Homo sapiens: one gene and its partners. The protein of the gene in region 1 interacts with the protein of each later gene in a biochemical or structural test. Each region holds a gene or a part of one and is shown in the gene's direction. Other genes may lie near its edges.

Region 1 (3,500 bases):
AGAACGATGCCACTGCGGGTGCCTGGGAGCAGCTGTAGCCTTGACAGTAACAGGCCAGCCTGGGCCCTGCATGGACCCGTGGGGCAGGGGGCCTCTCCTCAGACGCCCCCCAGCCACTGCACCTTTCCCTTCCTGCGGGTGGGGAGACTGAGGCCCTTTGGCTAAGACGGGTTGGGGAGCAGAACCAGGGCCTGCCTCCAGTTGGCCTTGTGGCCTCAGGGAACTCGTTCCCTTCCCGAGCCTCTGTTTCTGCATTTGTAAAATGGGGCTGGTAGGACCTCCGAGTAAAAAGGCCGGACACAGTGGGGGTGCTCTGGAGAGGCTGTGGCTGGCATGGGCGTGGGGAGCCCGCACTCTGCTCCCATTGCTACCCTCACAGCCTCTGCAGGGGCTTTGAGCAGCCAGCACCTTCACTCCAGCCTGTTTCCTGATCTGGCGGGCACACAGTGCAATGTGAAAGCAGGTGTGCGTGCACACCCACACCCGCATGCCCACACATCCATACAGTCCACACCATCACACACACACACCCACACACATCCATACAGTCCATACCATCACACACACCCGCACACATCCATACAGTCCACACCATCACACACACACCCGCACACATCCATACAGTCCACACCGTCTCACACACACACCCGCACACATCCATACAGTCCACACCGTCTCACACACACACCTGCACACATCCATACAGTCCACACCATAACACACACATACAGTCCACACCGTCATACACACACACACACATCTGTACAGTCCACACCTTCACACATCCATACAGTCCACACCGTCATACACACACACATCTATACAGTCCACACTGTCACACATCCGTACAGTCCACACCGTCATACAAACACACACACATCTATACAGTCCACACCGTCACACATCCGTACAGTCCACACCGTCATACAAACACACACACATCTATACAGTCCACACCGTCACACATCCATACAGTCCACACTGTCATACACACACACATCTATACAGTCCACACCATCACATGCACACACATCTATATGGTCTACACCGTCACACACACACACATCTATACAGTCCACACCTGTTACATGCACACATCTATACAGTCCACACCGTCACACATCTATACAGTCCACACCGTCATACACACACACGTCTATACAGTCCACACTGTCACACATCCGTACAGTCCACACTGTCATACAAACACACACACATCTATACGGTCCACACCGTCACACATCCATACAGTCCACACCGTCATACAAACACACACACATCTATACAGTCCACACCTGTTACATGCACACATCTATACAGTCCACACCGTCACACATCCATACAGTCCACACCGTCATACACACACACATCTATACAGTCCACACCGTCTCACATCTATACAGTCCACACTGTCATACACACACATCTATACAGTCCACACCGTCACACATCCATATAGTCCACACCATCATACACACACACATCTCTACAGTCCACACCATCACATGCACACACACATCTATATGGTCTACACCGTCACACACACACACACATCTATACAGTCCACACCGTCACATATCTGTACAGTCCACACCGTCACACACACACGCCCACACCCGCATGCCACACATCCATACAGTCCACATTCACGTATGCCCATATGCATCCATTCACACGTGTGTACACATGCTCACACACACACATTCATAGACTCCACACATGCACACGTGCACACACACGCACATGCTCGCACACATGCACAGATACACTCACGTCCACACACGCTCAAACATGCGTGCACACCCGGAGGTGCCCAGAGGGGCAGGGTGGGGAGGACCCCTGCAGCTGCCACACTCCCTGCTCTTGTGGGTAGTTGGGGGCCACTGGGTATGTGTGTCCATGCCCCGTCCCCCCGGCAGTGCCGTGCACTGCAGACCTGCCTGGGGCTCAGCACCTGCAGGGGCCTGAGGGCGGGGGAGGGAATGCGGGGTCCCTGGACCCCTGCGGTCGGGGTGGTGAGGCTGCTCTTGCAGAGAGAAGTGGGGAGTGCCTGGCTGCATCCGGGAGGGATGGAGGGCTGGGGAGTTGGGGGGGTGGGGCACCTCCAGCCCCGGCGTCAGCTGTCCGCCTCGCCCCAGGCTCCTCTCGAAGATCCTGAGCGAGTGTGAGGACGCCGACGAGATCGAGTACCTGGTGGACGGCTCGTGGTGCCCGATCCGCGCCGAAAAGGAGCGCAGCTGCAGCCCGCAGGGCGCCATCCTCGTGCTGGGTGAGTGCCTCACCCCACCAGCCGCGCAGTCCGCAGCCAGGGCCGCCTCAGTTTCCCCATTTATCAGTGGTTGCATCCTAAGTACCTGCACCCTGTCCCTGTTGCCCGTAGGCCCCTCGGACGCCAATGGGCTCCTGCCCGCCCCCAGCGTCAACGGGAGCGGTGCCCTGGGCAGCACGGGTGGCGGCGGCCCGGTGGGCAGCATGGAGAATGGGAAGCCGGGCGCCGATGTGGTGGACCTCACGCTGGACAGCTCATCGTCCTCGGAGGATGAGGAGGAGGAGGAAGAGGAGGAGGAAGACGAGGACGAAGAGGGGCCCCGGCCCAAGCGCCGCTGCCCCTTCCAGAAGGGCCTGGTGCCGGCCTGCTGACCCCGGCCGCACACTCGACTTTCCTGGTGCTCACCACGCAGAGGGGCACGGGCCAGCCTCGGGCGCAGAGGGAGGAGTGACCTTTCTTTTTCTTTTTATTGTCGTTCGTTTTGTTTTTCCACCCTTTTGCCTGGCTCCTGGCACCTGTACCTCTGGACTCTCCTATCGGGGGATTAAAAAAAAAAGTAAAATGACAAAAAAAGATACAAAAAAGAAAAATGAAACAAAAAAGTCAAACTCTTAAAAACAAGGCCGGCCACCCACACAGCCGCCTCCCCGGCTGGAGTCCGAGCCGGGAAGGGGTAGTGGGCGGGAGGGACCAGGACGCCGCCCCGCGCCCTCCCCTCCGGATGCCCCGCCGCCCGCCGCCCTCTGCCCACGACCATTCCAGCCAGTGCGCGGGGACCCGGGCGGCGGGCGGTGGGGCGCAGCCCCTCTCTGGCGACCACTTTGACGTTTGTCTCTTCCTTTGCTTTTTCTCTGCAAATGCATCCTCGCCCAGAGACCCTCACGCGCCGAGCAGCGAGCGTTTTAGCCGAGAAGCCATGGAGTGGGTTGGGGCGGGGAGGGGCAGTAGGGTGGGGGGATGGGTGGGCAGGATGGGGGTACAGTGGGCGGCTGGGGAGGGTTTAGCCACAGATGTGTTGTATTTTTTGAAAGTGCAATAATTTGGTATTTTGAAGACCCGGCGTGTGGTCAGGAACCCCCGGGGAAGGCGGGGGCCCAGGGTGCGGCACCGTGTGGCGTGGGGGGGTCTCAGTTTTCTAGCCAGCTACCTCGGTAATTCCAATTCAGGTTAACTTCCCTACGGAACAGCACAGATGTCCACAGATGTCCACAGCTGCCGCCGCCGCCGCCGC
Region 2 (4,170 bases), on another chromosome or scaffold:
AGGCTCTACTACTTGCAGAGCATAACCAGAAAGAAAAACCAAGCAAAGATATGAAGGAGGGGCCACAAAACCATAGCACATTCAGGGGATAACTCTAAAATCCACTCCAAAGGGCAAACTGCTTAATAAAGCAGTTCCTGATTTCCCATCCAGTGGTTCACGTCCCCCCTCTCTAAGTAGCTTTGAAAGGGCAGGGGGAAGGAAACGTTTCTGAACACGTTCATGCCCACACGCCCCGTGGTCGGAGCCCAGGCAGGGTCCGCGGCTCTGCTAAACCCGGAAGCTGCACACGCCGTGCCGTTAACCCACTGCCAGGTGCAAAGTGGAAGGGGGCAAGAAGTCAAGGGTGGCCTGCCGGAGGTGGGCGCGCAGGGCAAGGAGAAACGAAGGGCGAACCCGAGGCCTCGCCGCCTTCCGCGGTGTAGCCCGTCAGCATCTGATCCTGGACGGCGCGCACAGGTGAACACACCTTGCTGTGCCGAGACCATGCCGAGAGAGACAAGGGGCGAGGAAAACGCAGGGAACTGGGGGTGGGGCCGGTAACTGCGCTTCAGAGGCTACACAGGAGAGTGGAAGAAGAGCTGGGGTTGCCCGGACTAGGCAGAGGTCATCTTCCTCGCCCCCGGAGCGAACAGACCCGTGTGGCGGGAGGAAGAGCAACGGGAAGAGGTCCGCGCTGCGGCGAAGCCTGGCGGGAGCGCCTCCGCGCCGCAGAAGTGCATTCGGGCCCCGCTACGGCCCAAGGGCACCCCTCTCTCCCCGCTTTTCTGCGGCCGCTTCGGAGGTAGGGCGGGGGAACCACTCACCTCCGGCCTCCGCTTCGCCAGCACCCAGGCCGTCTCCAGCTCCAAACACGTCAATGGCTCACGCAGCAGGACCTTAAGTAGCGCGCATCCCAACTTGCTGCCCCCGCTCCCCGGCGGCAGCCCGCCCAATCGGCGCGCGCCGCCGCCAGACTGACAGCCGCGCGGGGCCCTGGGCCGCAGGGGCGGTCGGGCCTCGCCCCGCCCCCGCCTGGCGAAAGGAGGGCCGAGGCGGGAGGAGTGGGCGGGGCGGTGAGCGCGACCCCGCCCCCTCTTCCCCCGCCCCACCGCGCCCCCCAGCCGCGGCCCGTCTCTTAACACTTCGGCTTGACGGGCGGCGTCGCGGCCCAATGGGCGGGCCAACTCCCGCCAGCGGCGGCTCCGAGTGGCCAGCTCTCGGGCGGAGCGCGCGCGGGGGGCGGGCGCAGCGGCGGGCGGGGTTTGGGGGCGGGCCGACGGGAGGCGGGGGCGGTGGCCGAACAGGCAGGGGGAGGCAGCGGTGGGCGCGACGTCGGCGGCGGCGGCGGCGGCGGCGGCGGCAGCTGCAAGTTGGGCTGCAGGGGCAGCGCATACACTACAATGGCTGCTGGAAAGAGGCGTAAGGAAACAATTTCCAGGCCCGCCGCGTCCAGCCCGAAATATGAGAAAAAAATTATTAGAAATTCCGCGGGCGGTGTAGAGGCGGCGGACGGGCCGGAGGGAGGATGTTAAAGCCCCGCGGTGAGTTCTCCGGGGGTCCGGGGCGGCGGCGAGGCGTTTAGCGGGAGAAATATCAGGGTTATTTAAATTATGGGACTAGCCGAGGGGGCAGAGGAGCAGCGGCGGCGGCAGGAGGAGGAAAAGTTTGTGCTACTCTCAGCCCCTGCTCAGGACCCCAGAGAGAAAAATAATAATAAAAAATAAAATAAAATAATTACGCGGGGCTGCGAGGACTCCCGAAGTCGCTTCTGACAGGGCAGGGGGCGATGCGGCTGGGGACCCGAAGGTGAGGTCGGTGGGAAAAAAAAAAAAACCTTTATTCAGGGTCTGGAAAGTTTGAAAAGTTTTCCTCCTCCTCCTCCTCCTCCTCCTCTCTGGTGCTGTGAATATTGTGACAGCGGCAGCGGCAGCAGCGAGAGCGGAAGACATTAGAGACCCGAAAAATAAGGGAAAAATTAATATAAATTCAGTTTTGAGAGTAAACTCTCCGCATTTTCCACCAAAACATCCCGGGGGAAGGTCGCTTCCCAAAGGGCCTGGCGGAAACCCGCAGTCGGCAATATTTGGGGGGCACTTTGAGTGACTTGGGGTAACTTTGCCCCTTTTTCAAAAGAGGTTTTTCTTTTCTGGAGAAATGAATTTGTTTTTGCCCTTTCCTCAGGTGGGCAAGCCGGGGTCGGGGTGCGGGGTCTGCAGGGAGGTGTGAGCCCGGGGTGTGTGGCTGCGAGGGGGGGTAGGGGGAGGGGGTGCTAAATGAAAGCAGGAGATCGGCACAGAGCAGGGACAGCTTGTTGTCAGTATCATAAACAACCAAAATGGAGGGAGAACTCAGGCATATAACCAAATAAAAATTTTTAAAAAATCGCAAAAAATCCCTAAAAATCCGGGATGCTCCCCCTTTTCTCGCTAAAGGTAAAAGTATGTACCGCCTTTCCCCTGAAGTCCATTTTGACTTTGCAGGGACCAAGGAGTTAATATTTATTTATTTTTTAAAACTTTCGAAGGGCAAAAGCCTTTTATAACTCAACCGACAATGAGAAAACGTGAAAATCCGATGCAAGAGAAGCAGGGGGAGCGAGGGGGGAGGTGGTAGTGCAGAAACTGCTAAACTTATTGGTAATGTGGACTGATCTCAGATAAGATAAACACTATATTTGCTATTTTATAACTCTCTTTTAATGATCTTTGCGGGGTTTTTTTGGGTGGAAAAAAAAGTGATGCCATTTTCTTAATAGAGTTAATATGTGTGATTGGAAGAATGAACCTTTCCGGCTTTAGATTGCATTTTCGTCGCATTTATGCTTCAGGTTTTGTTAGTGGCTCCCTCCTTTCTTTAAACTGGGCTCTGCAGAGGAGGGATAGAGAGGTGATGGTGCTCAGAGAGGCTGGAGTGCAAGGCTGGAGTACCTTTTGGGGAGGGATGTGGAGTTGCTTGGTTTCCCCCTTCCTGACATGTTTGCTTCACCTGTTCATCCTTCCTAAAGAATGTTAAGCTGAGGTTTTCTGGTTTTATGTGTATAAAAGGATGATGTCTCTTGCATCACATTGATGTTAATGGGAAAGTGCTGCTGATGTTGGTTCCACGTGGGATATGGGACAGAGCAGGGCATTTTAAAGGGACAGCTTCTCTTTTCTTATGGTTTTCATCACCTACACAGAATCACTGTCTGAGGACCAAAAGCAGAGGTGCTGGGAGGGTGTGGTGATGGAAGAGCCTTCCCTTTCTGTTACTCCAGTGCACCCACCCATAGGAGTGATGGAGGGACAGGAGGGATAAACAGCCTCAACCGAAGATGGATATGTGTATAGTTTGTATCCAAACTGTTCCTTTGTGTAACAAGCCCTCCCAGGAACTTTTCATGTTACATTGCTTTGCTTTGGAAGCTGATTTTGGAAGGAATTGTGGAAAAATGGAAATAGTTTAAGGTGTGTGGTGTAATGGTATAGCATTATTGAACAGTTATGAATTCTGTGCAGTGAGATCAAAGAGCTGTGTATGCCCATAATGTGATTTTACAGCCATTTTGTAAAAACTGTAAAATACCTTAATATTCAATTTGGCTTAAGGTACATTGAGGACTTCTGGTTGAAAATTACAGAGTGGTGAAGATTCTTTAAAATTGTAAGCAGTAGGCATTTCTTTAGGGGGAAGGAAAGCACACACACCAACACCATGGAAAAGTTTACACATCCATTTTTAAAGTCCATCCTATGCATGGGTTGTAACTTTGCGCCTTTGAAATGAAAAGATTTTTAAAATCCTGAGCCCTGTGAGTTTTCATTTTCTAAGTTGAATTTATTTGTGTTATTTAACAGAAAGTGTTTACTGACCATAAACTACTATCGGCTCTTATGTTTTAGATTTCCACGATATTTTCAAAATTTAAAATGTGTAAATTGTTAGCTGTACTATAATGGGGATTAAGGTTAATCTTCAGTAGAAATTACTTGTGTTCCATTTTCCACAGGTATATGGAGTTTCTGAAATAAATCCTTATTTCCTCTTGTTTTTATTATTTATAGACATGGATTAAAATTAGAGCTGAATTTTTAGACTTCTTATATAGAATGTTTTTTCTTGCCCTACTGTATAAACAAGTTATTATTTTTGTAGTCTATTGTATGTTAACTTGTGTTTACAACTGAGTTCTTCCAACTTTCTGTAAAT
Region 3 (3,500 bases), on another chromosome or scaffold:
TTTCAGCTAGAAGCTGGGTGCAGTGGCTCACACCTGTAATCTCAGCATTTTGGGAGGTTGAGGTGGGAGAATCACTTGAGCTGAGTAATTCAAGACCAACCTGGGCAACATAGTGAGACCCTGTCTGTATTAAAAATTTAAAAATAAATATAAATAAGTTCCAAAAAGAGGTTATTGAAATTATAGATTTTTTCTCATCCAAGTTCATGGAATTCTATACTTGTACAACTGGAGTTTAAGAACTACTACTGTGGAATGAGACTGCATTTTAAGGCCCAGAATATTTTCCATTTGTTGAGATTTCCTTAAGATAAGTACCCATGAGTAATATAGCTGGTTCAAAAGGTACACACAACTTATAATTTATGCTACAGATGCCATCTGGCTTTCTTGAAGAGACGTACATGTCCACAGTGAATGAGTATACATCCATAGACCTTTGATTCCTTGGATCATATGATTGGCAGGCAAAGAACTCTATAGACGGCCCATCCTAGCAGCTCACATTTGCTGCCACTCTGTTAAATGCTGGTCATCTGGAATTGTTTATTCTCCTCATGTTATCATTACAAGCCAGAAATAAAAGCATGAATATTCAGGTGCTGTTTACCTAATTCAGGAAAACCCCTCCCAGGAGCATGAGGAGGTCTTTTGTTGCTCTCGCTCTGGAACCGGGTTTGGGCAGCCCAGGCTGCCTGCCAGATGAGCCCTCCAAACCCAGGATTCCTCTCCTGTGTGCCCACAAAGCAAACACACGCCCCTGTTTGCCAAGTGAATCAATGGAGTCTTTGATGCTTTGAGAGAATTTGACATAGCCTGCCAATTTAGCATTCACAGAAATGGTTAAAAGATCATGGTTTGCTACATTTCTATCCTAAAAAGAATCTGGCTAGTGGTGTCTGTGATGCTTTTGTATATAGAATCAGTCCCCTCAGTTTGGCTTTGGACAACATAGATGTTGGAAGTAAGCCATTCATAGTAAAACATATTTAGTGATCCTCTCACAATGGTGGCCTCTGTTTCCAATCTTGGGCTGTGTGTATCTAACAACAAACAATTCCAGGTTCAGTGAGCAGCCCAGTGTGTGTCAGACATGTTATTTACTCCGTAGAGGTTGTCTTCACCTCACATAGATGACCATAGGTATGGGGTTCTCCTGCCCTCTGAGTAGCGTGAGCTCAGTGACAGGGGCTCTAGCTCCATGTTGTTATCCACTGCTGTCTCTAAGCAGGAATCTGAGAAGAACTTAGATTCACCAGGGGTGCTTCAAAGATTCTAACAAGCAAGAAAGGCTGAAACTGCCCTTGTCTCTTCCCTTATAGATATGGATTCCATGAGAGTTCACATGGGGAAAAAAGCTCCACAGCTAAAAGTGTTTTCACATCCATTGAGTGACAACTAAGGTCCTTCCCACCTCAGACTTCTCTCCTTTTTTTTTGAGACGGAGTCTCGCTCTGTTGCCCAGGCTGGAGTGCAGGGGCATGATCTCGGCTCACTGCAAGCTCTGCCTCCCGGGTTCATGCCATTCTACTGCCTCAGCCTCCCGAGTAGCTGGGACTACAGGCACCCACCACCACGCCTGGCTAATTTTTTGTATTTTTAGTAGAGACGGGGTTTCACCGTGTTAGCCAGGATGGTCTTGATCTCCTGACCTTGTGATCCGCCCTCCTCAGCCTCCCCAAAGTGCTGGGATTACAGGCGTGAGACACCGCGCCTGGTGACCGCTCTCCTTTTAAAAACAGAATGCCAAAGCTAAGCCCTGCCATGTCCTGGTTTGGGACAGACTGGCTGAGCTGTTTGGCTTCCTGGGTGTCTTTTAATTGCCAGTTTGTAGCCCCTTGAGTACTCTCTTCAGTGCATCCATTTTCCTTGAGAAGCTGGCACCGCCTTCCCAGAGTACTGGTGGGATCTGAGGAACGAGCTGGGGTTGCCCAGTAGATGCAAGTATCCTGCTTCAGTTTCCTAAAGAGGAGCTCCTACAGTGTTCTTAGAATGAAAGCTAAGAACTGGCACAGGATCTATTTGATAAACAGCTGTCATTTGTAGCCATCCTCCCAGATGTATGACAGCAGAGTGTTCTCTGATGGAAAGATCAGCACCCAGATTCCCAGCCCCAGCGGGTTCCTTTCCCTGAGCCCCTAGGTTACTGCCCTGTAAAACCCTTGTTTCTTTCCAGATCACTGAAGAACAAATAGTTGAATTCACTAGTCCTTGTGCATCTTCTCCCTGCCTTCATGAAGCCACCCTTGTTTTTTTTTATCTGACAAACCACTGACAGAGACAGCCTGGTCCAGATAACATCTTGGTTTCACCTTCTCAGGTGGAGCCATTTTTCCTCTACAGCTCATAACCTTACCACTATTATTTCCCCTAGATTGATGCCAAGAAGGAACAGCTAGCAGATGCCCGGAGAGACCTGAAAAGTGCTAAGGCTGATGCCAAGGTCATGAAGGATGCAAAGACGAAGAAGTATGTACCTGGTATTGTGAAAGTTGGGGCTGGTAGAGAAAAGTGTGCAGCATCTGTCAGGGCCCCTGGGGCCCTGGCTTTTCGATGGTTTCTGAGAAATGTCTTTTGGAAATCTCTATACTAGGGCTTTTATTGACTCAAAGTGGCAGGATGGGTACAGTGTGCTCTTGTCTAGAGCCCAGGCCTGGTTCTTGAGGACTTTGCTATTCTTCTAGGGTAGTAGAGTCAAAGAAGAAGGCTGTTCAGAGACTGGAGGAACAGTTGATGAAGCTGGAAGTTCAAGCCACAGACCGAGAGGAAAATAAACAGATTGCCCTGGGAACCTCCAAACTCAATTATCTGGACCCTAGGATCACAGTGGCTTGGTAAGTGTTGAGCCCTCCTTGAGCTCCTGCTGCTAGCTTAAGAAAGGTGGAGGGGGTTCCGAGAGCACTGGTGGCCTTCACATGCCATTCCTAAGCTACACACTTTAGTCCTCTGGGGAAACTTCTGGCTTCAGCTGTGTACAAGTTACTCTGGTTGCTGAACCTTGTCTGTAAATGCATTGCAACATTCTGGTTGCTCCTAAATGGTCAGTGCTGTTACACTGCCTTGTAGTGTATATTTTTAAGAGGCAGGTGCCATCCCTATTCCTAATGGAACTTTAGGACAGGAATGGAAACTCTTAGCTTCTGGAAGAATAGGAAAGAGCCCATCCATCTCTACACTTCAACAAAACTTTTCGTTGAATTTTTTTGCAGTTGAAGGTAGGAACAAGAGATAAAGATGAGAATACAGATCTGAGCAACTTACACAGAGAGGCAGAGGGACCTTTAACAAAAGCAGATAAATACTAGGTTTCTCTGTGTGTCACACACAGTGTCACATAACATCTGAAACAAGTGGCTTTGTTATGGAAGATGTTTAGTTTGAGCTGTTAAGTTCTGAGCATAGGTGGAGATATCCTCCCCTATGGCACTTGCTAGTCCGGGCTAAAGTTTCCATCTAGGTCTTTTGTACCTCTTTCTGCTCGTTTTGCCTTGTTTGGTGCT
Region 4 (3,500 bases), on another chromosome or scaffold:
ATTTTCAGTAGAGGCGGGGTTTCACCATATTGGCCAGGCTGATCTTGAACTCCAGACCTCAGATGATCTGCCTTGGTCTCCTAAAGTGTTGGAATTACAGTGTGAGCCCCCGAGCTCAGACTGGAGTCTTTAAATGGGCATTTTTTTCCTTTAAATTTCCTGTTAGTGGCCAGCCAGGCGGATCACGAGGTCAGGAAATTGAGACCATCCTGGCTAACACGGTGAAACCCCATCTCTACTAAAATACAAAAAATTAGCCCAGCATGGTGGCATGAGCCTGTAGTCCCAGCTACTGAGGAGGCTGAGGCAGGAAAGTCACTTGAACTCCGGTGGTGGAGGTTGCGTTGAACTGAGATTGTTCCACTCACTCCAGCCTGGGCGACAGAGCGAGACTCCATTTAAAAAAAAAAAATTTCATTTCCTTGTCTAACTCATTTAAATGCATATTTGTCTCAAGGTATGTTCTATTTAACATTATAGTAGCTGTGTCTGAAAAGCAGTAAAGCTTTCTAAAAGAATGACTTACTGGCTGGGCGCAGTGGCTCACACCTGTAATCCCAGCGTTTTGTGAGGCTGAGGTGAGTGGATCACTTGAGGTCAGGAGTTCGAGATCAGTCTGGCCAACATGGTGAAACCCTGTCTCTACTAAAAACACAAAAATTAGCTGGGCATGATGGCAAGCGCCTGTAATCCCAGCTACTCGGGAGGCTGAGGCAGGAGAACCACTCGAACCCAGGAGGCGGAGGTTGCAGTGAGCCAAGATCGCACCACTGCACTCCAGCCTGGGCGACATAGCAAAACTCTGTCTTAACAAACAAACAAAAACAACAACAACAAACAGGCCGGGCACAGTGTCTTATGCCTGTAATCCCAGCACTTTGGGAGGCTGAGGTGGTCAGATCATCTGAGGTCAGGAGTTCGAGACCAGCCTGGCCAACATGGCGAAACCCTGTTTCTACTAAAAAATACAAAAATTAGCCAGGCATGGTGGCGCCTGCCTAGTCCCAGCTAATCAGGAGGCTGAGGCAGGAAAATTGCTTGAACCCAAAAGGTGGAGGTTGCAGTGAGCCGAGATCGCGACACTGCCCTCCAGCCTGAGTGACAGAGCAAGACTCTGTCTCAAAAAAAAAAGAAAAGGAAAAAAAATACTACATCTTACTGTTCACTGAAAATGAGAGGCTGGGCACCATGGCTCACTCCTGTAATCCCAGCACTTTGGGAGGCTGAGGCGGACGGAGCACCTGAGGTTAGGAGTTCGAGACCAGCCTGGCCAACCTGATGAAACCCAGTCTCTACTAAAACTACAAAAATTAGCCGGTTGTTGTGGCGGGGGACCGTAGTCCCAGCTACTCTTGGGAGGCTAAGGCAGAAGAATCGCTTGAACCAGGAGGTGTAGGTTGCCTTGAGCTGAGATCACGCCACTGCACTTCAGCCTTGACAACAGATCAAAACTGTCTCAAAAAAAAGAAAATGAAAATCACCCCAAATCTTTTTACCTATAGGGTATGTTAACATGTTGGCAATTGTTTATTTAGGTATTTCTTTAATATATTCATGGTTAAATATGCATGTACTTTTATGTAAATAGAATTCTGTTTCTCTTAATGCTGTTTATTGCTTTTAAATTCTCGTTCAGGGATTGTCAATGAGGCAGATCAGATTCCGATTTGACGGGCAACCAATCAATGAAACAGACACACCTGCACAGGTAAAAAAATCTCTCCTAATTAGAAAAATTACCATTTGTAATTCTTTGAACAGCTGTGTTTATGAATTTGAACGTTTAGACACTGGAGTATAAGTTCTTGTAGAGTTCAGAGCTTTGGGAAGTATGACCAGAGGGGAACAGAAAGGAAAATAGGAATAGGCTCAGGAAATGCCAATGGTTTTTATTCATTTATTTTTAATTTTCATTTTAATTATTTTTTTAGGGACAGGGCCTCTCTGTTGCCCGGGTTGAAGTGTAGTGGCCTCATTATAGCTCACTGCAGCCTTGGCCTCCCAAAGTGATGGGATTATAGGCACGAATCAATGTGCCCAACCCCACCAGTGGTTTGTGTTTGTTTTTTGTGACGGAATCTCACTCCATCGCCCAGGCTTGAGTACAGTGTCACGATCTTGGGTCATGGCAGCCCTCGCCTGCCATGCTTAAGCAATTCTCCTGCCTCAGCCTCCCAGAGTAGCTGGGATTACAGGCATGCACCACCATGCCTGGCTAATTTTTGTATTTTTGGTAGGGATGGGGTTTCACCATGTTGGCCAGGCTGGTCTTGAACTGCTGACCACAAGTAATCCGCCCGCCTTGGCCTCCCAAAGTGTTGGGATTGACAGGTGTGAGCCACCGCACCCAGCCAAATCCTCACCATTTTAGTTCTACATGCTGAATTGAAATTCTCTTTTACGTGTCTTCATGAACAAAAAGGAACTAATAGCCCTAATTGCCACGTCCCATAGCTTTGTTTGACAGGGAGAGCCCCTGATAATAGGAGATTTTCCAGATCCTTACTACAAAACGTGATGCTCTCTGATCCTTTAACTCTTTATGTACCACTTCATTTTGTTCTGTCACTTTCTGTAGGATCAGCTGGATTGTCTTCTGTGGCAGAAGCTCTTTGTTTCTTTTTACCCTTTCAAAGTTCCATTAAATACTTCCAGTTTTGTCCTAGCAGGGTGGCTCATGAGAGCCATTTTCAAGATTACAAAGTGCTTGTAATGCCAGCACTGTGACGCCAAGGTGGGCGGAGCACTTGAGTCCAGGATTTCAAGACCAGCCTGGGCAACATGGCAAAACCCTCTCTTTACAAAAAAATACAAAAATTAGCCAGGGAGCAGTGGTACGTGCCTGTAGTACCAGCTACTTCTTAGGGTGAGGTGGAAGGATTGCTTGAGCCCAGGAAGTGGAGGCTGCCGTCACCCAAGATGGTACCACTGCACACCAGCCTGGGTGACAAAGTGAGGCCCTCTCTCAAAAAAAAAAAAAAATGACTTCCAGTCTTGTCCTGACTTGGTGGCTCACACCTGTAGTCCTATCACTTTAGGAAACTGACACTGGCAGGAGGGTTGCTTGAGGCCAGGAGTTTAAGACCAGTCTGGGCAATATAGCAAGACCTGGTCTCTACAGGAAAGAAAAAGAGCTGGGCATGGTAGCATGTGTCTGTAGTCCCAGCTTCTTGGGAAGTTTAGTGGGAGGGGTGCTTGAGTCCAGGAGTTTCAGGCCGCAGTGAGTTATGATCATACTACTGCACTCCAGCCTGGGCGATAGAGCAAAACTCTGTCTCAAAAATAGAAGACTTACAGTTTCTGAAACATATTTTACAATGTTGTGATAGTAGAAATTTAAATTGGATCCCATGTACTTTTGAATTTCAACTTTATCACCCAGTAAAAACTAGAAAGTGATAAATGTGGCATGAAGCAGCACATCCAGATTGTAGTTTTGTTGATAATCTTTGAAAATTGGAAAAGCCCCTGAGTTGTACTGAAAAGAAGAATATTTTGAA
Region 5 (2,889 bases), on another chromosome or scaffold:
TGGCTTGGTTTGGTCATGCCCGTCGATGTTTTGGGTATTGAATGTGGTAAGTGGAGGAAATGTTGGAACTCTGTGCAGGTGCTGCCTTGAGACCCCCAAGCTTCCACCTGTCCCTCTCCTATGTGGCAGCTGGGGAGCAGCTGAGATGTGGACTTGTATGCTGCCCACATACGTGAGGGGGAGCTGAAAGGGAGCCCCTCCTCTGAGCAGCCTCTGCCAGGCCTGTATGAGGCTTTTCCCACCAGCTCCCAACAGAGGCCTCCCCCAGCCAGGACCACCTCGTCCTCGTGGCGGGGCAGCAGGAGCGGTAGAAAGGGGTCCGATGTTTGAGGAGGCCCTTAAGGGAAGCTACTGAATTATAACACGTAAGAAAATCACCATTCCGTATTGGTTGGGGGCTCCTGTTTCTCATCCTAGCTTTTTCCTGGAAAGCCCGCTAGAAGGTTTGGGAACGAGGGGAAAGTTCTCAGAACTGTTGGCTGCTCCCCACCCGCCTCCCGCCTCCCCCGCAGGTTATGTCAGCAGCTCTGAGACAGCAGTATCACAGGCCAGATGTTGTTCCTGGCTAGATGTTTACATTTGTAAGAAATAACACTGTGAATGTAAAACAGAGCCATTCCCTTGGAATGCATATCGCTGGGCTCAACATAGAGTTTGTCTTCCTCTTGTTTACGACGTGATCTAAACCAGTCCTTAGCAAGGGGCTCAGAACACCCCGCTCTGGCAGTAGGTGTCCCCCACCCCCAAAGACCTGCCTGTGTGCTCCGGAGATGAATATGAGCTCATTAGTAAAAATGACTTCACCCACGCATATACATAAAGTATCCATGCATGTGCATATAGACACATCTATAATTTTACACACACACCTCTCAAGACGGAGATGCATGGCCTCTAAGAGTGCCCGTGTCGGTTCTTCCTGGAAGTTGACTTTCCTTAGACCCGCCAGGTCAAGTTAGCCGCGTGACGGACATCCAGGCGTGGGACGTGGTCAGGGCAGGGCTCATTCATTGCCCACTAGGATCCCACTGGCGAAGATGGTCTCCATATCAGCTCTCTGCAGAAGGGAGGAAGACTTTATCATGTTCCTAAAAATCTGTGGCAAGCACCCATCGTATTATCCAAATTTTGTTGCAAATGTGATTAATTTGGTTGTCAAGTTTTGGGGGTGGGCTGTGGGGAGATTGCTTTTGTTTTCCTGCTGGTAATATCGGGAAAGATTTTAATGAAACCAGGGTAGAATTGTTTGGCAATGCACTGAAGCGTGTTTCTTTCCCAAAATGTGCCTCCCTTCCGCTGCGGGCCCAGCTGAGTCTATGTAGGTGATGTTTCCAGCTGCCAAGTGCTCTTTGTTACTGTCCACCCTCATTTCTGCCAGCGCATGTGTCCTTTCAAGGGGAAAATGTGAAGCTGAACCCCCTCCAGACACCCAGAATGTAGCATCTGAGAAGGCCCTGTGCCCTAAAGGACACCCCTCGCCCCCATCTTCATGGAGGGGGTCATTTCAGAGCCCTCGGAGCCAATGAACAGCTCCTCCTCTTGGAGCTGAGATGAGCCCCACGTGGAGCTCGGGACGGATAGTAGACAGCAATAACTCGGTGTGTGGCCGCCTGGCAGGTGGAACTTCCTCCCGTTGCGGGGTGGAGTGAGGTTAGTTCTGTGTGTCTGGTGGGTGGAGTCAGGCTTCTCTTGCTACCTGTGAGCATCCTTCCCAGCAGACATCCTCATCGGGCTTTGTCCCTCCCCCGCTTCCTCCCTCTGCGGGGAGGACCCGGGACCACAGCTGCTGGCCAGGGTAGACTTGGAGCTGTCCTCCAGAGGGGTCACGTGTAGGAGTGAGAAGAAGGAAGATCTTGAGAGCTGCTGAGGGACCTTGGAGAGCTCAGGATGGCTCAGACGAGGACACTCGCTTGCCGGGCCTGGGCCTCCTGGGAAGGAGGGAGCTGCTCAGAATGCCGCATGACAACTGAAGGCAACCTGGAAGGTTCAGGGGCCGCTCTTCCCCCATGTGCCTGTCACGCTCTGGTGCAGTCAAAGGAACGCCTTCCCCTCAGTTGTTTCTAAGAGCAGAGTCTCCCGCTGCAATCTGGGTGGTAACTGCCAGCCTTGGAGGATCGTGGCCAACGTGGACCTGCCTACGGAGGGTGGGCTCTGACCCAAGTGGGGCCTCCTTGTCCAGGTCTCACTGCTTTGCACCGTGGTCAGAGGGACTGTCAGCTGAGCTTGAGCTCCCCTGGAGCCAGCAGGGCTGTGATGGGCGAGTCCCGGAGCCCCACCCAGACCTGAATGCTTCTGAGAGCAAAGGGAAGGACTGACGAGAGATGTATATTTAATTTTTTAACTGCTGCAAACATTGTACATCCAAATTAAAGGAAAAAAATGGAAACCATCAGTTGTTGCTGTGTGAGGCTTGCTTTGCTTCATGAGAACCTAGACCTTGCTGAGCTGGAGTCTTAGGAAGCAGTCTCCTAAGTGCTTCTCCAGCAGGGGCAGAAACTGTCCCACCAGCTAACATCTGGCATTATGGAGGGTCCCCCAGGCAGCTGCCAGCAGGGACAGGCCCCGTGTTTTCTGTAGCCAGGGATGAGGAAGTGGCCCCAGGGCATGGGCCTGGCTGGGTGCTTCTGCAAGGGCCTTCCCAAACCACAGTACAGGTGGTCTTCCTGCCCTGCAGATGGGAGCTGTGGGAGCTGCTGGAGCTGCTGGAGCCTTCATGGTCAAGTGACATCATAAGCTTATATGACATACACAAGCCTCAGGACTTGGCCCATGGCACTGAAGCAGGTCATCAGGCCCAGCACAGAGACTAGAGCTGTGTTCTCACAGGGCCCACCACCCTTCCACCTCCTTGGCCATTGACACCTGCGTCCCTGGCCCAGCTGCTCCCAG
Region 6 (4,296 bases), on another chromosome or scaffold:
GGATCACAATCCACTTCCAAGCAATGGGTAAAAGGGTGACAGTTATCTTCTGAAGATTCAGATGCTTTAACTTTTGGGGGAAAAGTATTACCCCATATGCTTCTTATAAAGGGCTAAAATGTAAAAACGCATATACAGAACTTAACCCTTAACTAGAAAGAAATTATTATTAATGGAGTGTCATTCCTAAAAATTACACAATACATCCACACTAAAGGCTGAGAATAATAATTCTGAAGGTTTTAACGACTATTCTCTTATTCTGAGACTCTTTTTTGTATTTTTAGTGGAGACAGGGTTTCACCGTGTTGGCCAGGCTGGTTTTGAACTCCTCACCTCAGGTGATCCACCCGCCTCAGCCTCCCAAAGTGCTGGGATTACAGGCGTGAGCCACTGCGCCCGGCTTTCTGAGACTCTTAAACTCAGTGAAGATCAGTCTTTATTTAATAGCTATGCTTATTCTACACTTAAGCAGGGACACCGCTTTGATCCTCTTCATACTAGGGAATTTCACTTCACTTTCTTCTTCCACAGTGATTTGGATTCTTATATTAGTAAGACTTATAAAATGGAGATATCTTGGAGTTTTCCCATTTTCTCTGACAAAAATATTTGAGTACCAGGCACTGGAAACGCCAGACAAACAAGGTCTCTAACCTTGCCATCTTTCAACAAGAAACACTCCCCTCGCCCCACCCCAGGGGAATGTAGTAGTGTAATGGTAAAAACATAAAGAGAACTATACGGACTTCACCGAACTGACATGAGGTTTAAATGCGATATGGCAGACAAAGCATATAACGGTAGAAAAAGTGAACACTTAAGAAATGTTTAATTCCCATCGCCTTTCCCAGTGTGATCGCTCAGCAGCTAAATTACTGTTAAACACTGGCTATCTCATGCTATATAAATCTAAGACACGATAATAAGCAAAAAACAAAATAATAACAACAAACATTTTTACTACTTATCCTCTCTAGACTCTTATTAGAATATCCCTGGGCAGTTGATTCCAGACACTCACAGCCTCTGATCTCTGAGACTAAGCATTCGCTTCATGGTCGCATACTTCCTTGTTTTCTTTTGCTTCCCCTTGAAACAGAAATTTTAGAATTAAAAAAGTTGGAAACACACGGCATCTTTTAAAGTCTCTTCTTTTCTCTTGTCTATTGCCTTCCCTTCTTGCCTCAAATAACCCAGACCCTCTTCCCCACTCTGTAAAGCATAACAGTCACCGCTTGGAGAAGTTTAAGAGCTAAGACCAGAATGAAAATATGCTAGGATAATGTGAAGGAAATTTGGCCACGGTCTGACTACCTCCTTCTCCACCCAAAAAGTGGCCTGATAACGTCCCTTCTTGGACCGTCTTCTCTCACCATGGTCACGCCAAACTCCTGGTTCTTCCGTAATCACCAACGGCGCAATACTTCTACGTCATTCACATACTGCTTCCGGCAAAGGATAGCCCGGAAGCGGAAACTCCTTGGGGAAAGGGCAATCCCCCGAGCCGGTTCCCAGGCCGGGTGGAGACCAACTCTGGGGTCTGTTGGTGGGAGAGTGGGGAGCCCGTCTTCTGCTGAGTGCTGCCGCCCCTTCCCAGGACAGCGGAGGTGGAACTTCGTCGCGCTGCAACCCCCGGCTCGGGTAACGTTTCTCTCCAGCCTTAGGCAGAGCCCAGAAGACCTGCCTTTACCAGAGTTCCAGAGAGAGAGGGAGGAAAAGGGTAGGGGGGTTCAGACTCCTGGTTTGCCCAGTAGTTTGGGGGAACACATTCTCCTCACCCTGTAGCGTTGGGGTATCCGGTGTCTATGGTCCAGCCCTGAGGCTGTGGTTCCTATTTGGTTTTCCTAGCCGATATGGTGCTTTGTGCAGCTAGGTGGATGATTGTTCTCGAGTATATACCGTGTACTCCTCTCGGTGAAGAGAGAAATGAAGCAGTGTTTGAGGGCCTAGACTATCGCTAGAGAATTGGGGCATAAGCTTGCATATGTTACTACTTACCCAAGCCAAGAAAATGGTGAGATACAATGCACATTTATTGTGAAGCCTTGGTGTGTCATCTTTAAGTAAAAAGGGAGAATTTGTGAGAACAAGGAGCGAAAGGTAGCTTTTTTCTTTGAGTACCTGCTATGTATTCCAGTGGTTCTTAACTTTTTGGAGATAACTTATTTCTTGAAAGTTTGTGGAAAGCCAGGAACAATTCTTTAAAAAATGGGCACACATACAGTTTGTAATACACTTAATGAGATTGGTGGACTCTGAAGCCCATCCGTGGACCCTCTGGGTGTCTGTAAACTTTAAATGAAAACCCCCATCCTGTATACTGTACTTGTCACTTTATTCATATTACCTTCTTTGACCTTCTCAATAACATAAATTCTTTTATTTTACATATGGGGAAATTGAGCCCCAGACTTTGTTCAGGGGTCTGTTTGAGTCTCGTGATTCCAAAGTCTGTACTTGTATTTCTTTTTTTCTTTTTCTTTCTTTCTTTCTTTCTTTTTTTTTCTTTTTTTTTTTTTTTTTTTTTTTTTTTTTGCACTTTGTCTTCCATTCTCCAGCTACTGATCAAGCTGGGAACGGAATGGGTACCTCTGTCATACTTTTCTTATTGCATGATGCTATCCTAGAGTTGGAAGTAAAATATGTTATCAGGTTTAAAAAAGAAGGTGACCATTGTATAACCCTTATGATGAAAACACGTTTATTGTTTAACACGAACTTTGGAGTCTGACTGATGGGGTTAAAATCCTTGCTCTGCCTTATAACTCGCCATGACATTGGGTGAGTTAATCTATCTGCATCTCAGTTTCTTTATCTGTAAAATGGAGATAATCATAGTAGCACTCTTTTATTGGGATGTTATCAGGACTTATGTTTATTCATAGTTAACATGCGAGGTCCCTAGAAGAGTGTAAACCAGACTACTCAGAGTGTTTTCTGTTGTTACCATTGTGTGTCTTCCAACTTGAGGATGTGTGGCAGGGTTGGAATTTTATGCCAATTTTATTTTATTTTATTTTATTTTATTTTTGAGACAGAGCCTCCCTCTGCTGCCCAGGTTGGAGTGCAGTGGCGCAATCTCGGCTCACAGCAACCTCCCCCTCCCAGGTTCAAGCAATTCTCCTGCCTCAGCCTCCCGAGTAGCTGGGACTGCAGGCATGTGTGTGCCACCATACCTTGCTAATTTTTGTATTTTTAATAGAGATGGGTTTCACCATGTTGGCAAGGCTGGTCTCAAACTCCTGACCTCAGGTGATCTGCCCACCTCGGCCTCCCAAAGTTCTGGGATTACAGACGTGAGCCACTGTGCCAAGCCCCAATTTTTTTTTTTTTTTTTTGAGACGGAGTTAGTTTCGCTCTTGTTACCCAGGCTGGAGTGCAATGGCGCAATCTCGGCTCACTGCAACCTCCACCTCCCAGGTTTAAGCGATTCTCCTGCCTCAGCCTCCTGAGTAGCTGGGATTACAGGCGTGCGCCAACACGCCTGGCTGATTTTATATTTTTAGTAGAGACGGGGTTTCTCCATGTTGGTCAGACTGGTCTTGAACTCCCGACCTCAGGTGATCCGCCCACCTTGGCCTCCCAAAGTGCTGGGATTACAGGCGTGAGCCACCGTGCCTGGCACCAGCCCAATTTTATTTTAACATAGTTGCACTGGAACTTGAACGTGTTCATAAACCTCAAAACATTAAGTTTTCAGGTCCTGGGATGCTCAATCGCAGGGTGATTTCTTCTGTTGATTTGGGTGTAAACTTTTTCTGCTTCTCCTTTCTCTTTCAGGCACACATTCATTTAGATGGCTTAATAGTTTACATATCTGTGGGCACTGAATTTTTGATGTAGAAATGGTAGCTACAGATACTGTATGTGCCTTCTGCTTTACCCCATTTGTGGTCACTAGAAGTTCCTAATCTTTCTGGAGCAGCTTGTCTCTGTCAAGCTGCCATTCATGTGTAGAGCTAATAGCAACCAGTTTTTTGATGTATCTCTTGGTGATTAGACAATAAGCTTTTTATTGTCTAAAAGCTAAAATAACATGGTCAGTTATTCTTCTTAAACATTTGACTCATTAGTATTATATATAGGTTCAGAGGGAAAATTGCATATCATTAAATAGTAATTTGCATTTAAATTTAGGCACTGACAGAAAAACGCTCTTCTGGTAATGTGTACTTTGAATTTTGGAATCCATGAACAACAACAACTTAAAAAAAGGCCATTTGTAATTTCTATTGTAACCTCTATTGAGAGTGTTCTGATTTCCTTGATTGTTAATACCTAATAGGGAGCTAA
Region 7 (3,500 bases), on another chromosome or scaffold:
CTGTTGTCCACTGACCTCTCCGTCTATCCATCTATCTATTGTCCACTGACCTCTCCATCTATCCATCTATTGTCCACTGACCTCTCCATCTATCCATCCATCTATTGTCCACTGACCTCTCCATCTATCCATCCACTGTCCACTGACCTCTCCATCTATCCATCCATCTATTGTCTACTGACCTCTCCATCTATCCATCCATCTATTGTCCACTGACGTCTCCATCTATCCATCTGTCTGTTGTCCACTGACCTGTCCACCCATCTGTCTGTTGTCCACTGACCTCTCCATCTTTCCGTCTGTTGTCCACTGACCTCTCCGTCTATCCATCTATCTGTTGTCCACTGACCTCTCCATCTATCCATCTATTGTCCACTGACCTCTCCATCTATCCATCCATCTATTGTCCACTGACCTCTCCATCTGTCCATCCACTGTCCACTGACCTCTCCATCTATCCACCTATTGTCCACTGACCTCTCCGTCTATCCATCCATCTATTGTCCACTAACCTCTCCATCTATCCATCCATCTATTGTCCACTGACCTCTCCATCTATCCATCCATTGTGCACTGACCTCTCCATCTATCCGTCTTCTATCCAGGCCTCCATTCATCCCCCATCTAGTCATCCTCCATCCATCCACCAGACATCCACTCCTGCCCCTACCCACCCATTCACTAGACACCAAAATCCGGTGACGAATTATTTGCAGATGGACCCCTGGGGACGTATGTCACGAATGTACATCCCCAGGTCCCATGGTCAGAGTCGGCAGGTGTGAGTGGGGCCCAGGAAACTGCATTTTCAGAAGACTCTAAATTAGAATCAGACATGGCTGCTGTGTGGATTCACCCTTCACCGTCACCCTGCAGAGGAGCAAGGTCCACAGGGTCGCTGTGTTCCCAGTGCGTTCCTGACCACACCGTAACGCCCCTTCCTTCCTCCCTCTCTCACCAGTTGCTTACATTTCCTCATCCCGGAAGCATGACAGCATTAAAGACGACTCGGAGGTGAGTGTGTGGAGCAGCTCGCTGCCATTTCCGACGTCCTCTGGAAAGTCTGTGAGCCTGTCTCTGGGGTAGTCACGGAAATCTAGATGTGAAATAGACATGGTCCGGGGTGTTGCTAACTAATCTTCACGGGTGTGGATGTCTAGAAGGAAGTCCTTATTCTTGGGTCTTACTTCAGGCATGTCCTTGATGAATACCTGCAGGCAGCTGTCCCCGCAGGTGGTCTGGGGACCACACCCTGCGGGGGAAGCCGTGCCCCACATCCTCTCCATTCAGGTGGTACAGTGGCCCAGGGGCTGGCTTTTGAGCTGCAATTTTTATCAAGTTGTGTCTGCACCATGCCTTCCGAATTGTGTTGCCTCATTTGGCCATCCTGGCAAACCCTCTGAAGCCCTTTCATGTCCTTCCCCAACTTGAGCCAAGAGGCTCAACTGAGCCTCACGTCTGTGGCCAGCTCTGCACCATAAACCCTGAGAAGGGAACAGAAGAGCTTGCTGCGTTCTCAGCCTCTGCTCGTAAAACCCAGGGAAGGACTGCACTAGCGAAGCCCACTCCTTTCCAGAGCACCAACAAGTGTCACCCTCACAACTCGTGCTCCTTCCTGGCCATCCTGTGTCTGGAGGGAGGCCGGGGCACTTAGAAAGCAGAATCTGAGGCTGAGCACGGCGACTCACACCTCCAATCCCAGCATTTTGGGAGGCTGCGCACATCGCTTGAGTCCAGGAGCTCGAGAACAGCCTGGGCAGCATAGCGAGACCCTGTTCCTACAAAAATAAATACAAAATAATTAGCTGGGCATGGTGGCACGGGCCTGTGGTCCTAGCTGCTTGGGAGGCTGAGGTGGGAGGATCGCCTGAGCCTGGGAGGTGGAGGCTGCAGTGAGCTGAGATCGCACCACTGCACTCCAGCCTGGGCGACAGAGGAAGAGTCTGTCTCAAAAAAAGCAGAATCCGGCTGGGCGCGGTGGCTCACGCCTGTAATCCCAGCACTTTGGGAAGCTGAGGCGGGCAGATCACGAGGTCAGGAGATGGAGACCATCCTGGCTAACACGGTGAAACCCCGTCTCTACTAAAAATACAAAAAAAAAAAAAGCTGGGCGTGGTGGCGGGCGCCTGTAGTCCCAGCTACTGGGGAGGCTGAGGCAGGAGAATGGCGTGAACCCGGGAGGTGGAGCTTGTAGTGAGTCGAGATCGTGCCACTGCACTCCAGCCTGGGCGACAGAGCCAGACTCCGTCTCAAAAAAAAAAAAAAAAAAAAAGCAGAATCCATTTTGCCGCACAGAACAGCACCTCCCAAGGAACCGCCTCCTCCACCCCGACCTCCTTGCCAGGTGTAGCTTGCGGGAGGCAGAGGCTTCTGTTCTTCCTCGGAGCGCCTTTCTCCTGGGTATTTCTAATAATTATTTCTAATAATGTGTGCCTGCCGGTTTGGGAGCTCTTGGCAGGCATTAGCTGCATTCGCTTTACCTTCCTTCCCCTGAGGGAGGGCACTGATCAGGAAGGATGGGCCCAGGCCCTGGGCCACATGTCCCTGTGGCCACCTCTTCAGCCCCACTGATAGGGCTGAGGGCCTGGGGGTCCCTCCCACCTGCAGCTGTGACCAGAGCCATGGTCTGTGGAACGAACAGCTTCTAGCTTTCTAGCACCTTCCTCAGAAGCACACAGCCTTAAATTCTTACCTTTCATGCCCCAGTTTAGATGGGAGTTTGGGGGTGGGATATGTGGGACGCAGAACTGAGACTCGAATCATGAGGCCCTGGGCTCTGAGGAGCAGGTCTCTGTTGGGACCGCATGAGTGATGCGTGGTCCTCTGAGTCTCCCGGGAACCCCCCTCTCACTTTCTGGGGTCTTGTTCTCCCTCCCTAGGACCTTAAGCCAGTTATCGATGGGATGGATGGAATCAAAATCTCTCAGGGGCTTGGGCTGCAGGACTTTGACCTAATCAGAGTCATCGGGCGCGGGAGCTACGCCAAGGTTCTCCTGGTGCGGTTGAAGAAGAATGACCAAATTTACGCCATGAAAGTGGTGAAGAAAGAGCTGGTGCATGATGACGAGGTAGGTGCCGCTTCTCATGGGGCCCGGGGGCCCGGGAACGCGCTGCCCTGGGGCCTCCTCCGGGCTTTAGCGGAATTAATCCATGCACGAGAGACCTAGCCTCACGTTGACGGAGTTTGTGCAAAATCAATAGTCATGCATCGTGTAATGACCAGGATGTGTTCTGGAAAGTGCCTGGTTAGGTAATGGCACTGTTGTGTGAACATCACAGTGTGCACTCCACAAACCCAAACAGCACAGCCAACTCCACAGCCAAGATGCACAGTGCAGCTCCTGCTCCCAGGCTGCAAGCCCGTACGGCTGTTAGTGCACTGCACACTGCAGGCAGTGAGGGGACCACCACGAGAGCACTCACGTGTCTAAGCTTAGAAAAGGTGAAGATGGGTATCGTGGTCTCTGCAACCTTCTCATGTATGGCCAACCACTGATACG

What was found.
Region 2: the proteins of PIAS4 (region 1) and PLAG1 form a complex in vitro, tested with the Homo sapiens proteins (one study listed by BioGRID).
Region 3: of the proteins of PIAS4 (region 1) and TOP1, one has a biochemical effect on the other in vitro, tested with the Homo sapiens proteins (one study listed by BioGRID).
Region 4: the proteins of PIAS4 (region 1) and SUMO2 form a complex in vitro, tested with the Homo sapiens proteins (4 studies listed by BioGRID).
Region 5: the proteins of PIAS4 (region 1) and HTT form a complex in vitro, tested with the Homo sapiens proteins (one study listed by BioGRID).
Region 6: of the proteins of PIAS4 (region 1) and AREL1, one has a biochemical effect on the other in vitro, tested with the Homo sapiens proteins (one study listed by BioGRID).
Region 7: of the proteins of PIAS4 (region 1) and PRKCZ, one has a biochemical effect on the other in vitro, tested with the Homo sapiens proteins (one study listed by BioGRID).

Annotation. Positions count from the first base shown.
Region 1 is NC_000019.10:4,035,236-4,038,735, forward strand, and holds part of PIAS4 (E3 SUMO-protein ligase PIAS4), read left to right. Parts: intron 1-2,138; coding exon 2,139-2,269; intron 2,270-2,380; coding exon 2,381-2,640; 3' UTR 2,641-3,500.
Region 2 is NC_000008.11:56,208,474-56,212,643, reverse strand, and holds the start of PLAG1 (zinc finger protein PLAG1), read left to right. Parts: upstream 1-1,370; 5' UTR 1,371-1,523; intron 1,524-4,170. UniProt on the Homo sapiens protein: Transcription factor whose activation results in up-regulation of target genes, such as IGFII, leading to uncontrolled cell proliferation: when overexpressed in cultured cells, higher proliferation rate and transformation are observed.
Region 3 is NC_000020.11:41,119,322-41,122,821, forward strand, and holds part of TOP1 (DNA topoisomerase 1), read left to right. Parts: intron 1-2,374; coding exon 2,375-2,469; intron 2,470-2,684; coding exon 2,685-2,834; intron 2,835-3,500. UniProt on the Homo sapiens protein: Releases the supercoiling and torsional tension of DNA introduced during the DNA replication and transcription by transiently cleaving and rejoining one strand of the DNA duplex.
Region 4 is NC_000017.11:75,172,960-75,176,459, reverse strand, and holds part of SUMO2 (small ubiquitin-related modifier 2 isoform a precursor), read left to right. Parts: intron 1-1,636; coding exon 1,637-1,708; intron 1,709-3,500. UniProt on the Homo sapiens protein: Ubiquitin-like protein that can be covalently attached to proteins as a monomer or as a lysine-linked polymer.
Region 5 is NC_000004.12:3,241,569-3,244,457, forward strand, and holds the end of HTT (huntingtin), read left to right. Parts: 3' UTR 1-2,389; downstream 2,390-2,889.
Region 6 is NC_000014.9:74,710,281-74,714,576, reverse strand, and holds the start of AREL1 (apoptosis-resistant E3 ubiquitin protein ligase 1), read left to right. Parts: upstream 1-1,496; 5' UTR 1,497-1,644; intron 1,645-4,296. Other genes in the region: rRNA-processing protein FCF1 homolog, read right to left, coding at 1,025-1,092, 1,377-1,379. UniProt on the Homo sapiens protein: E3 ubiquitin-protein ligase that catalyzes 'Lys-11'- or 'Lys-33'-linked polyubiquitin chains, with some preference for 'Lys-33' linkages.
Region 7 is NC_000001.11:2,147,911-2,151,410, forward strand, and holds part of PRKCZ (protein kinase C zeta type), read left to right. Parts: intron 1-961; coding exon 962-1,014; intron 1,015-2,879; coding exon 2,880-3,068; intron 3,069-3,500. UniProt on the Homo sapiens protein: Calcium- and diacylglycerol-independent serine/threonine-protein kinase that functions in phosphatidylinositol 3-kinase (PI3K) pathway and mitogen-activated protein (MAP) kinase cascade, and is involved in NF-kappa-B activation, mitogenic signaling, cell proliferation, cell polarity, inflammatory response and maintenance of long-term potentiation (LTP).